3 linked regions of the Homo sapiens genome follow. The protein of the gene in region 1 interacts with the protein of each later gene in a pairwise test. Each region holds a gene or a part of one and is shown in the gene's direction. Other genes may lie near its edges.

The links.
Region 2: the proteins of TSPAN4 (region 1) and GNE interact in binary tests that used the Homo sapiens proteins (3 or more experiments, as listed by UniProt).
Region 3: the proteins of TSPAN4 (region 1) and NR4A3 interact in binary tests that used the Homo sapiens proteins (3 or more experiments, as listed by UniProt).

What each region holds. Positions count from the first base shown.
Region 1 is NC_000011.10:849,339-852,985, forward strand, and holds part of TSPAN4 (tetraspanin-4), read left to right. Parts: intron 1-517; exon of another isoform or gene 518-690; coding exon of another isoform or gene 691-966; coding exon 967-1,029; intron 1,030-3,647. UniProt on the Homo sapiens protein: Structural component of specialized membrane microdomains known as tetraspanin-enriched microdomains (TERMs), which act as platforms for receptor clustering and signaling.
Region 2 is NC_000009.12:36,220,371-36,224,017, reverse strand, and holds part of GNE (bifunctional UDP-N-acetylglucosamine 2-epimerase/N-acetylmannosamine kinase), read left to right. Parts: intron 1-515; coding exon 516-645; intron 646-1,019; coding exon 1,020-1,241; intron 1,242-3,647. UniProt on the Homo sapiens protein: Bifunctional enzyme that possesses both UDP-N-acetylglucosamine 2-epimerase and N-acetylmannosamine kinase activities, and serves as the initiator of the biosynthetic pathway leading to the production of N-acetylneuraminic acid (NeuAc), a critical precursor in the synthesis of sialic acids.
Region 3 is NC_000009.12:99,828,238-99,831,884, forward strand, and holds part of NR4A3 (nuclear receptor subfamily 4 group A member 3), read left to right. Parts: coding exon 1-756; intron 757-3,647. UniProt on the Homo sapiens protein: Transcriptional activator that binds to regulatory elements in promoter regions in a cell- and response element (target)-specific manner.

The sequences.
Region 1 (3,647 bases):
GCCGCCGGCACTCAGGGCTTCCCCAAGGGCGCCCGGGGCGGAGCCGCTTCAAGTTGCCACCAGACAGCAACGGGGTCACCCTCCATTTGCGTAGTGCTTTGAGTATCGTTCTCGTGGTTGGAGGTCTCCAAGCCCGGCCCGGGGCCAGAGTCCGGGCGAGGTACCGTGGGGGGAAGGGCTGGGGGTGTCGGTCGCGGGCTAAGAGCTGCCCAGGTTTCATCCCCAGGCCCCGGCCCCGGCCTCCAGTCCCCTCAGGCGCCCTTCGCGAGCATCTTCCTCCCGCGCGCGAAGGTGGGGGGGCTGGGGCGCCGGCGCGGGCGAAGGGGCCGGGGTCGCGGCTGGTGCGTTGCCGGGGGCTGCGATTGGTCCGCCCAGGCGGAGCGCTGGGGTTTGCCGGGCGGTGCGGCGAGGAGGGGAGGGGTCCGCGCGGGGGCGGAGCCGCCGGGGATTGGCCGGGAGGGCGCGGGGCGGGGCGCGCGGGGTCGGGGGCGCGGGGGCCGCAGCGCGCGGGCCGGGCAGATGTTTGGGTTCCGCCGCCGGGGTCCGAGCGGATCCGCGCGACCCGCTGCCACCGCGGGGGCCAGAGCGGGAGCAGGAGCGGGGCCGGAGCAGGCGCCGGCCGGCGGGATGGGGCGTTCCGGGGCGGCGGGTGCGGGGCGCTGAGCGGCGGCCCCGGCACACCCGGGCGCGATGCGCCGCTCCAGCACGGACGAGTCCACGTACCGGCGCAGCCCCTCTCCGGAGGGCAAGGAGCCGGACTTCGCGCGCGGCGGCCCCTTCCGGCGCTACAGCAGCCTATACGGGCGCGCGGGCGGCGGGGACGCCGGGGGCTCCTTCTTCGGCCTGCACGCGAACCCCGGCCCCAAGGCGGCCCAGGCGCGCTACACGTCGCCCAAGGGCAACAAGTACGTGGTTTTCTACCTGGACCTCTCCTTCATCTTCCTCCTAGAACTGAAGCGCTGCGGCATGGCGCGCGCCTGCCTCCAGGCCGTCAAGTACCTCATGTTCGCCTTCAACCTGCTCTTCTGGGTGAGTCCGGGGGCCGGGGTGGGGGCCCGGGAAAGACCCGGGGTCCCTCCCGCGGCGGGTCGCGGGGTCTGGGGAGTCGGAGTCGCTGCCCCGGCCAGGCGTTGGGTGCGGTTGTGGGGATGGTCCCGGGAGGACCCAAGACCGCTGCTCCGGCTAGGAGCCTGGACTGGGCGGGTGGGGAAGGTTTGCACCATCGCGGGGTCCGCCCCCTGCACTCAGAGCGGCTGCCCCACGCCCTGGTCCCCTCTCCTCTCCTCTCCTCTCCTCACTTGATGAGACGGGACACGTTGCACACGTGCGCGCCGGACAGGGCCACCCGGGCACTGCGCCTCTCCTAGGGTCGGGGTTCGAGTCCGGGTCGTGGCCAGTTTTGCGCGGGGCCCCGGTGCCTCCTCTGCGCCCGCTCCCTCCTCGGTGCAGCCGTTATCCTTGCCTCGGCCCCGCCCCTCCAGGCAGGCGACCTGTCGGGCCCAGGGACTCACTTCCGAGGGTTTGAGCCGGCTGCCGCCAAGGTCCCCCAGTCGCCGGGAGGCGCTGCGGAAGGGAATCCTGGACACTGAGCAGGGCCGTGGGCCATCAGTGTTCGCGGGAGACACTGGCTTTCCCGCGCCTCCGGCAGCAGAGGCTTCCCTAACTTTTGCGGAGGTGGGGTCAGGTGTGCTCAGACCTGCAGTGGTGTCCGGGGGGGCCCTGTGTGCTGGATGGAGCAGAGCTGAGGTAGAGGGCGGACAGGGTTCCACCCCACCCCAGCCCCATGTCAGCAAGAGGTGGGGCAGGATTCCCACCTGGCCAGGTTGGAGCAAGCCTCATGGAGCCGCGACCCTGTCCTGTCCCTGGCTCCTGTGGAGGGCAGCTGCAGTTGGGGGTGGCCGAGGATGACCTGGACCGGGCCTGGGGCTTTGCTGGCTGGGCTGGGGGAGGTGAAGTGATACCAAGGTCATTCTGTGCCCTATTCTTAATTCCTGAACCAGCTCCTGCAGCTGGGAGTCGGGGGTGTGGCCTCAGCTCCTGCCTAGGCTCTGGGCTTCAGAAGGAGGCTGTCCATCTGCATAAGGTCCAGCTGGGCCAAGTGCCCAGAAGCCTGGGTCTGCCTTCCCACCTCTCCCCTCCTGAGCCCAGGCTCCTTCTCTAGCCAGCTTGGGGTGGAGGCAGGGGGGTCCCTGGGAGGGACAGCCAGCCTGGGTTGCCTGCTGAGTGTGACCCAAGGAGGCTCTTGGCCCAGACATCCACCTCCAGAAGGGGTCACCCAAGGGTTTGTTTTCTGCAAGAGGCTCTGGAGGGGTGAGGCCCAGGCCTGAGGGGCGCCTTGGAGGTAGGGGTGGTGGGAGGTGTGGGTGTGGTCTGGAGCTGGTGGGTGTGGGGGGTGGGCTGCAGGTGGCTGAGTGACCAGAGTGTTTCTGTGACGGGGGGACGGGGCAGAATGACTGAAGGGCAGTGGGTGTGGGGGCCCGGCAGGCAGGCAGGCAGGTCCTGGGAGGGGAAGCCCTCTCTCCTCTCCACCCTCCTCCTGTCCTCCGTGGCCTGGACACCTGCCTTCAGGGAGAAAGAAGAGGGTCCTTTCCCAGGGGGGGTCTCTCTGCTCTGAGAGCAGCCCGCCCTCATGGAGGACCCCCAGGTGGACCTCTCTTTGCTCTGTGAACCCCAGAGAAGCCTCCATTCCTACCGCATGGCAGACACACTCCCCCATCCTCAACCTGGGAAAGAACACACAAGGAACCCCCTTGGGACCCTATTCTGGGCTGGAAAATGCAATTCTCTCTTTTTTATCTTTGTTTTTTGAGATAGAGTCTTGCTCTGTCGCCTGGAGTGCAGTGGCGTGATCTTGGCTCACTGCAACCTTCCATCTCTGGGGTTCAAGCGATTCTCATGCCTCAGCTTCCCGAATTGCTGGGATTACAGGCGCGCATCACCACGCCTGTCTAATTTTTGTATTTTTAGTAGAGACAGGGTTTCACCATGTTGGTCAGGTTGGTCTCGAACTCCTGACCTCGTGATCCGCCTGCCTCGACCTCCCAAAGTGCTGGGATTACAGGCGGCCCCAATTATTTTTTATTAATCAATCACCACCTTCCCGCCAGTCCAGCAAACTGGAGCCCCGCTGGCTTCATACACCAGCCTTGGCCCCCCCCAACCCTGGGCTGGTGCCCAGTGGGGGTCTAAGGGTGGGGGCGGGGCAGGGGAAATAAGAATGAGTGGGGGTTTTGCCAGGAGAGTCTGTCCCGGGCTGATGTCCACGCCTGCTGTGCCCTGAGTCACTGTGAGCTAAGCCCTCTCCTCCTGGCGTGAGGCTATTTCAGGAGTCAGGCCTAGCGCTCCCCTTCCCCAGGGCTCCTTTCCTTTTGGGGGTGCCAGCCCCCTGTTGTCGGGGCTTTTGCCGCCCACTCCATTTCCTACTCGTTGGGAGACCAGGGGATACAACCTGGCCTCCTCCTCCTCCTCCTCCGTCTTCTCAGGGGCGAAGTTCAGGGGTTAAGGTGGTGGGAGGGACGTCCCCCCGGCGGGACCTCAAGATCCCCGCGTGTGTCTGTCCTGACCCCCCGCTGCCGGAGTCCTGCTGGGCCTGTGGGGAGGGCATGGGGGAGCCCCAGTGGGCAGCCAGTGACCAGAGCCGTGGGCAG
Region 2 (3,647 bases), on another chromosome or scaffold:
CACTTTGGGAGGCCGAGGCAGGCGGATTGCTTGAGGTCAGGAGTTTGAGACCAGCCTGGGCAGCATGGTGAAACCCCATCTCTACTAAAAATACAAAAATTAGCCGGGCGTGGTGGCAGGCACCTGTAATCCCAGCTACCTGGGAAGCTGAGGAAGGAGAATCGCCTGAACCTGGGAGGTGGAGGTTGCAGTGAGCTGAGATCGCGCCATAGCGCTCCAGCCTGGGCAACAGAGCGAGAGGCCATCTCAAAAAAAAAAAAAAGAGAGGGGCCCATCTTGCTGCCTGTGGAGTTGTCATTGCTTCAACAGCCCCATATTAGGACAGATTACAGGAACTACTTGAGCTTACCCCAGGGCTGGCCCAGACCAGGCAGTGGGTCCTTCCCCAAGCAGTCATCTAAGACTGCGGGGCCATCCTATAGCAGTGTCTAATTTGTCATGAAAAAGATCACAACACTCACAATATGCTGCTTAGCTAAGACCAGTAAGACGGAACTTGTTGTTTTCTCTTTTAGGGTGAAATAGTTAAGAAGTATACTCAGTTCAATCCTAAAACCTATGAAGAGAGGATTAATTTAATCCTACAGATGTGTGTGGAAGCTGCAGCAGAAGCTGTAAAACTGAACTGCAGAATTTTGGGAGTAGGTAAGATTGTAAATTATAAATCCAAGAAATGCTCATTTTAATGTACAAAATTTACTAACTTGTGATGCATGCCTGAGCATCAAGTCAGTGTCTGCCCTGTGCATAGATGGCTCTAGGTGCTGTCTGTGGGCCCCAAGCATGGGGACTTCCTGGGACACCAACAAGCATTAGGAGAGAAGCACTGACAGTTCTAGAAATCTTTAAGGTGCTATGGCTTTAATTCACAACTGTCTAATATTTCCTTGCAGTCCTTGGTAACGTTTGTCTTAGGAGATCTGGGGTGAATGAATCTGTGTTCTTAAGACAAGAAAGTCAGCATACTTTCCTGAGATTGCTCATCAGCATTATTTCCTTGTGTTTGTGGTGGAGCGCAGGCATTTCCACAGGTGGCCGTGTAAATCCTCGGGAAGGAATTGTGCTGCATTCAACCAAACTGATCCAAGAGTGGAACTCTGTGGACCTTAGGACCCCCCTTTCTGACACTTTGCATCTCCCTGTGTGGGTAGACAATGATGGCAACTGTGCTGCCCTGGCGGAAAGGAAATTTGGCCAAGGAAAGGGACTGGAAAACTTTGTTACACTTATCACAGGCACAGGTAAGAGGGGTAGGGGGAGGTTGGTTCAGGAGCTAGAATGTATATTGGAGCATGTCTTCAACATGGTCAGGTGGTTACAACTCTGCCTTAGCCTTCACTTCCTGCATGACTAGAGCCTGAAGGTGAGCCACATGTGGCCTTTTCTGAGCATGTGCCCAGCCTTAGACATGCCTGTGGCCTTCTAAATTCCAGGAACTTGTCAGAGCTATTCAAAGCTCTTATTTCCCAGAGCTTCTCATTTCCCAGCTTTTCCTCCCAGTCTTTTTGGTTAGTGTGTTGGATGCCCCAGCTGTTATCCTTTGCCCTAGACAGCACAGACTAATACATTTTACCTTGAAATGTTTTTTTTTTTTTTTTTGAGACGGAGTCTCGCTCTGTCGCCCAGGCTGGAGTGCAGTGGCGGGATCTCGGCTCACTGCAAGCTCCGCCTCCTGGGTTCACGCCATTCTCCTGCCTCAGCCTCCCAAGTAGCTGGGACTACAGGCGCCCGCCACTACGCCCGGCTAATTTTTTGTATTTTTTAGTAGAGACGGGGTTTCACCGTTTTAGCCGGGATGGTCTCGATCTCCTGACCTCGTGATCCGCCCGCCTCGGCCTCCCAAAGTGCTGGGATTACAGGCGTGAGCCACCGCGCCCGGCCGAAATGTTTTTGATAAACATCCTTCATGTAACCCCCTCAGCACTAGGATAGTTCCTAGTTAGTTAAGATGAAAGCAGGCCCTTTGAGGTGGTCCTCCAGGGAGGTGACAGGCAGGTCAAAACAAACAACCACAATTTTTTGAAAATAAGTTCGTCCTGCCCCGTCAGGTACTGGTATCCAGTACTGTTTCTGTACACCAGTACTGGGAGTGTGGACTGTTGTTCAAGGTCACCACCAAGCTGGAGAGTGGGTGATGGGACCAGGGTAGGTTACAACACCAGAAAGTTCTCTTATCAAGATTCAGCTGGTTTTGTTTTGTTTTTAGACAGGGTCTCACCATGTTGCCCAGGCTGGTCTTAAACTGCTGGGCTCGAGGGATCCTCCTGCCTTGGTCTCCCAAAGTGCTGGGATTACAGGCATGACCCACTGCACCTGGCCCTGGTTTTTGTTTTTCTTTTTTAAATTAAGCATTCCTCTGTTTGTTGCAAACTTTGGTTAGTTTCCAGAGTTCCAAAAAGGTTGATTCTGACATTTTTACCAGTTTTTTCCTCACTTTAGTGGCAGAATGGACCTTTGGAGTTCCCTGCTCTGTCATTTTTTTATGACATCCCAATTTGTTACTTTTGTTTTTTTACTCTATTTTATTTTTGTTGTATATATTTTAAGTGTATAACTTGATTTTTAAATGAGGAAACAGACTTAGCTAATAAGCGGTTAAGCCAGCATCTGATACAGATATGTCTAACTTCAAAACTTGTATGTGCTTAAACTCTACATTACACCACTATCCCTTTAAGCTCATGTACTTATTTATTTATTTATTTAAAGAGTGAGTCTCACTCTGTCACCCAGGCTGGAGTGCAGTCGCACAATCTCAGCTCACTGCCTCCCAGATTCAAGTGATTCCCCTGCCTCAGCCTCCCAAATGGCTGAGATTACAGGAATGTGCCACCACACCCGGCTAATTTCTGTATTTTTAGTAGAGACAAGGTTTCACCACGTTGGTCAGGCTGGTCTTGAACTTCTGGCTTCAGGTGATCTGCCCGCCTCAGCCTCCCAAAGTGCTGGGATTACAGGGGTGAGCCACCACACCCAGCCTAAGCTCATGTACTTTAGCTCATGCTCATCCTCTTTTAGTTCCAGACACAGTTTTAGCAAACTTGGATACCATTTCCTGGCTCAGAGCAGTGACTAAGCTGTAAATCAGAGGGCTAGGGGTTGAGGAATAAGTGCCCAAGAAGTGACAGATGGCAAGACAACCCTTAAAAGCAGAGCCTTCTCAGGCACAATACCCTTTACTCCTTTGTAACTGCTAAACGCCATAACAAAAGACAGTCACTGATATTTATAATTATTGAATCACAGATTTTTAGACATGGCAGCATCAAAAAAGGCAAAATCATTATTTCATATTTTCTGCTTCAGGAAGCAGGTAGTGTGTGATACATTTTAAAAGACTTATCTTGGGTATTCCTCAGAGCAGAGCCTGAGACAAGGATTTAGGTACAGGTATGGTTTTTTGGAGGTGACCACAAGAAGCAGGAGGGTGAGTGGGAAGAATGAAACAGAGCAGGAAGAAAGCCATTAAGGATATATTAACATTATTGAAGTTGACTTGAGGGCAAAGGGGGCTGAACTCCACTAGCACCTCCTAAGAAGCCTGCAGAACAGCATCCAGAATTGTCCTGTGGATCTGCCGGCTCCTGCCTTGCCTCGGTTGCAGGTTGCCCCTGGGTGCTGTGCCTGCGTGGCTGAGTAGGCTCTTG
Region 3 (3,647 bases), on another chromosome or scaffold:
TCGAGCAACTACGAACTCAAGCCTTCCTGCGTGTACCAAATGCAGCGGCCCTTGATCAAAGTGGAGGAGGGGCGGGCGCCCAGCTACCATCACCATCACCACCACCACCACCACCACCACCACCATCACCAGCAGCAGCATCAGCAGCCATCCATTCCTCCAGCCTCCAGCCCGGAGGACGAGGTGCTGCCCAGCACCTCCATGTACTTCAAGCAGTCCCCACCGTCCACCCCCACCACGCCGGCCTTCCCCCCGCAGGCGGGGGCGTTATGGGACGAGGCACTGCCCTCGGCGCCCGGCTGCATCGCACCCGGCCCGCTGCTGGACCCGCCGATGAAGGCGGTCCCCACGGTGGCCGGCGCGCGCTTCCCGCTCTTCCACTTCAAGCCCTCGCCGCCGCATCCCCCCGCGCCCAGCCCGGCCGGCGGCCACCACCTCGGCTACGACCCGACGGCCGCTGCCGCGCTCAGCCTGCCGCTGGGAGCCGCAGCCGCCGCGGGCAGCCAGGCCGCCGCGCTTGAGAGCCACCCGTACGGGCTGCCGCTGGCCAAGAGGGCGGCCCCGCTGGCCTTCCCGCCTCTCGGCCTCACGCCCTCCCCTACCGCGTCCAGCCTGCTGGGCGAGAGTCCCAGCCTGCCGTCGCCGCCCAGCAGGAGCTCGTCGTCTGGCGAGGGCACGTGTGCCGTGTGCGGGGACAACGCCGCCTGCCAGCACTACGGCGTGCGAACCTGCGAGGGCTGCAAGGGCTTTTTCAAGGTGAGCGCACGCCGCCCCCTCCCCTCCGCACCCAGCCCCCTCACTGAAGGGAGCTTCTAAGTGAGTGTAGGAGCATCCTTGTTCTTCCCGGTTTGAGAGCTGTAATCGGCACATCATGCTTTCCTACAGCCCTTCCTAGCACCTTCACATCCATTTTCTCAGGGGCTTTCTACTGAGGTCCATGTGCAGCAGGCCACCCCAGACGGACTCCGGGGGTCCGTGAACCTCCTGGCCTGACACTGCCCTATGAACATTTTTCTGGAGAGCTTTCAGCAGAGTCTTAAAAGGACCTGTGACTTCGAAAATGCAAAAACCTCATTGCTTTGTCTGTCCATCCAGGGTGTCTGAGGGGATAGTGTGTGCGTACCAAGCCCTGGACATTTGTGTCTCATTTAATCCTTACAGTAAGAGCTGGGGCTCTAGAGTCAGACACATCTAAGATTGAATTCTGGCCACTCACTAGCTATTTTTAGTAACAGTGTTTTAAAACAGTGTTTTAATTTTCTTTGTTTTGTAGATGAGGATGTTGAGGTTTGAAGAGGTTAATCAGCTGCCTCAGGACACACCTTCAGAGAAGGGAGATGGAGGCAGGATGCCAACCCACGTTTGCGTGACCCCAAAGTCCATTCCCTTTTCACAGCTCTGCAGCTCTAGGAGACAGGGACAACTGTCTTCTTCTATGGAAAGAGCTGCCTCTTTCCATAGAAGATAGAACTTGGGGTCTTGTGTCCTCTAGGAACCTTTCCCTACCTCTGTATCACATGCGGTGCCAGGTGTAGACATAATTCATTCCCTCATAGGCCTAACGGAGAAATTTTACAGTGGGAGGGCCATCAGCCTCCCCCATATTTTACCCACGAGGAAGCTGAGGCCTGGAGCGGTGAAGCCTTATGCAGGCTGTAAGCAGTGATTTAACTGCCCATGAGATGTTTCCAGCTGATTTGTCCTGACTCCTGAGTTCAGTGTTATTTCTGCCACTTAGGGAAAAGACCTTGCTCTTTTGCTGTGCTACCTTTTGCTGTTGACTCCCAGACTTTATCAGACACTTACTTCTGTGCCATCCTTCTCACTCCTCACCCCACTGGCCATTATTTCAGTCATTTACAAACCCACACAAATTATTCCTTATCCTCTAGTGCTGGACAGGGTAGAAAGAAAGAGAAAGCAGGATGCTGACTGGGTAACTTGGATTTGGGAGGCCAATAGGATATATCTGGGAGTACACCAGAATTAGTGAGAGAAGACTCAAATAGAAGACCTTGATCTTCCACCTTCCAATTGTATCATGTTGGGCATGACACTTCATTCTAAGCCTGTTTCCCTATCAATGAATAAAACTCAGAGAAGAGCTGTGTATTCAATGAGATAAAAATATATATGAAAGTGCTTTATAATCTTTAAAGAGCTGTACAGATAGTTCATTATTAAACAAAAGCTATAAAGTTTTGTAAAAATGCACATTTGTGGAGGGATATACATAGCAACAAGCAACAATTATTTTTGATCTTCAGATTGTAAATATCACTACCTGAATTCTGCAGAGAAATGAGAAAATGTTTGGGGAAAGACTGCAATACGTTAAGTGCCCTACAGATATTTGGGATTATGATGTTTTAAATGCAGAATCTTGGTCATTTTATTTTATTTTTTAGCCACTGAGTTTGGCCATTTTTTGTTTTAACTACTCAAGCTTTATCAGAGCTACTTTCAAGTAACTGCATTCCTTTAGCAGATTTGATTTTTACAGGATTTCAGTGGAAAATGCTGAAGGACAGTGAAACTGGCAGCAGAAAGGGGGAAAGAAAAAAACAAGAATTATGAATAATCTACAAATATAATTATCTCTAAATAATGGAGAGTTGACCAAAATACCAGAGTGGTAATACATTCTGAGTCCAGAAATGTCAATTAAGTGTTCCCCAACAGCTTCTCTTTTCTGCAGCAATCCCTCGAAAACAAATCTATACTTGAAAGGGTGGGGGCAAGATGGGGGAGAATCACCCCACAGAACTGTTAATTAAGGGAACCGGAGCAGGTTTTACCCAGTGGCTTTCTACCATTAAATTGAGTTCTTTAAAAATGTGACATGAAGTGCAGTTAATGATAGGAATTCGGTGATTGAACCATAATGATCTCTCCCTGTCCTTAAACACAAATGTAGGGAAGGCTTCAGGTTATTGGGAAAATGTATACCTGAAGCAAAATGCCATCAGCACTCAAATTGGCATAAAGCCTTGAGGATGATGGCAAGAAATAGAGTGTTAGAAATTACTGCATGTTCAATGAAAGCTTTATTCAGGAAACACACGTTTCCTACCCTTACAGACTGCTAAGAATTTAAATGCTGGAACCTCAGAAGTATGCCTGTGTTTCAGAATTTTGCATTTTAAACTAAAATCACCTACTATGGTGGGAGAAACATGTCTTAGACTTGACATAGGTTGGCTTTGTTATATTAAGTTTTATATAAGCAATCTAGAAACTATCCCCTAAAATGAAATTAAAAGGTAACAGGGTAAAACTGAAACATGGGGGTTGAGAATGACTGGAAGTAAATGTTAAAAAGCAAATCTAGATGTTTGAACACAAAATAGATCATAAAGCCCAAGTTACCTGGATTTATTTTCTTTTTTTATTAATGCAGCCCAGGCTTCCCAAATAAATTTCAACTTTCTGCTCTATTTGGAGTTGTATAGATCCAGGTAATTTCTGAACAGTTTCACCCTAAGTGGTAAAAATACGTTCATTTGCACAAATGTTTTCAATTTAAAAAGCAAGCATTTGTTTAAATTTGGAGGACGAAATATGTTTATTTCTCCATGTGTCATTTCCAAATTATATGGATTCTGAAAAATACAACATCATTTTTCTATCCAACCTTAAGTTTTATG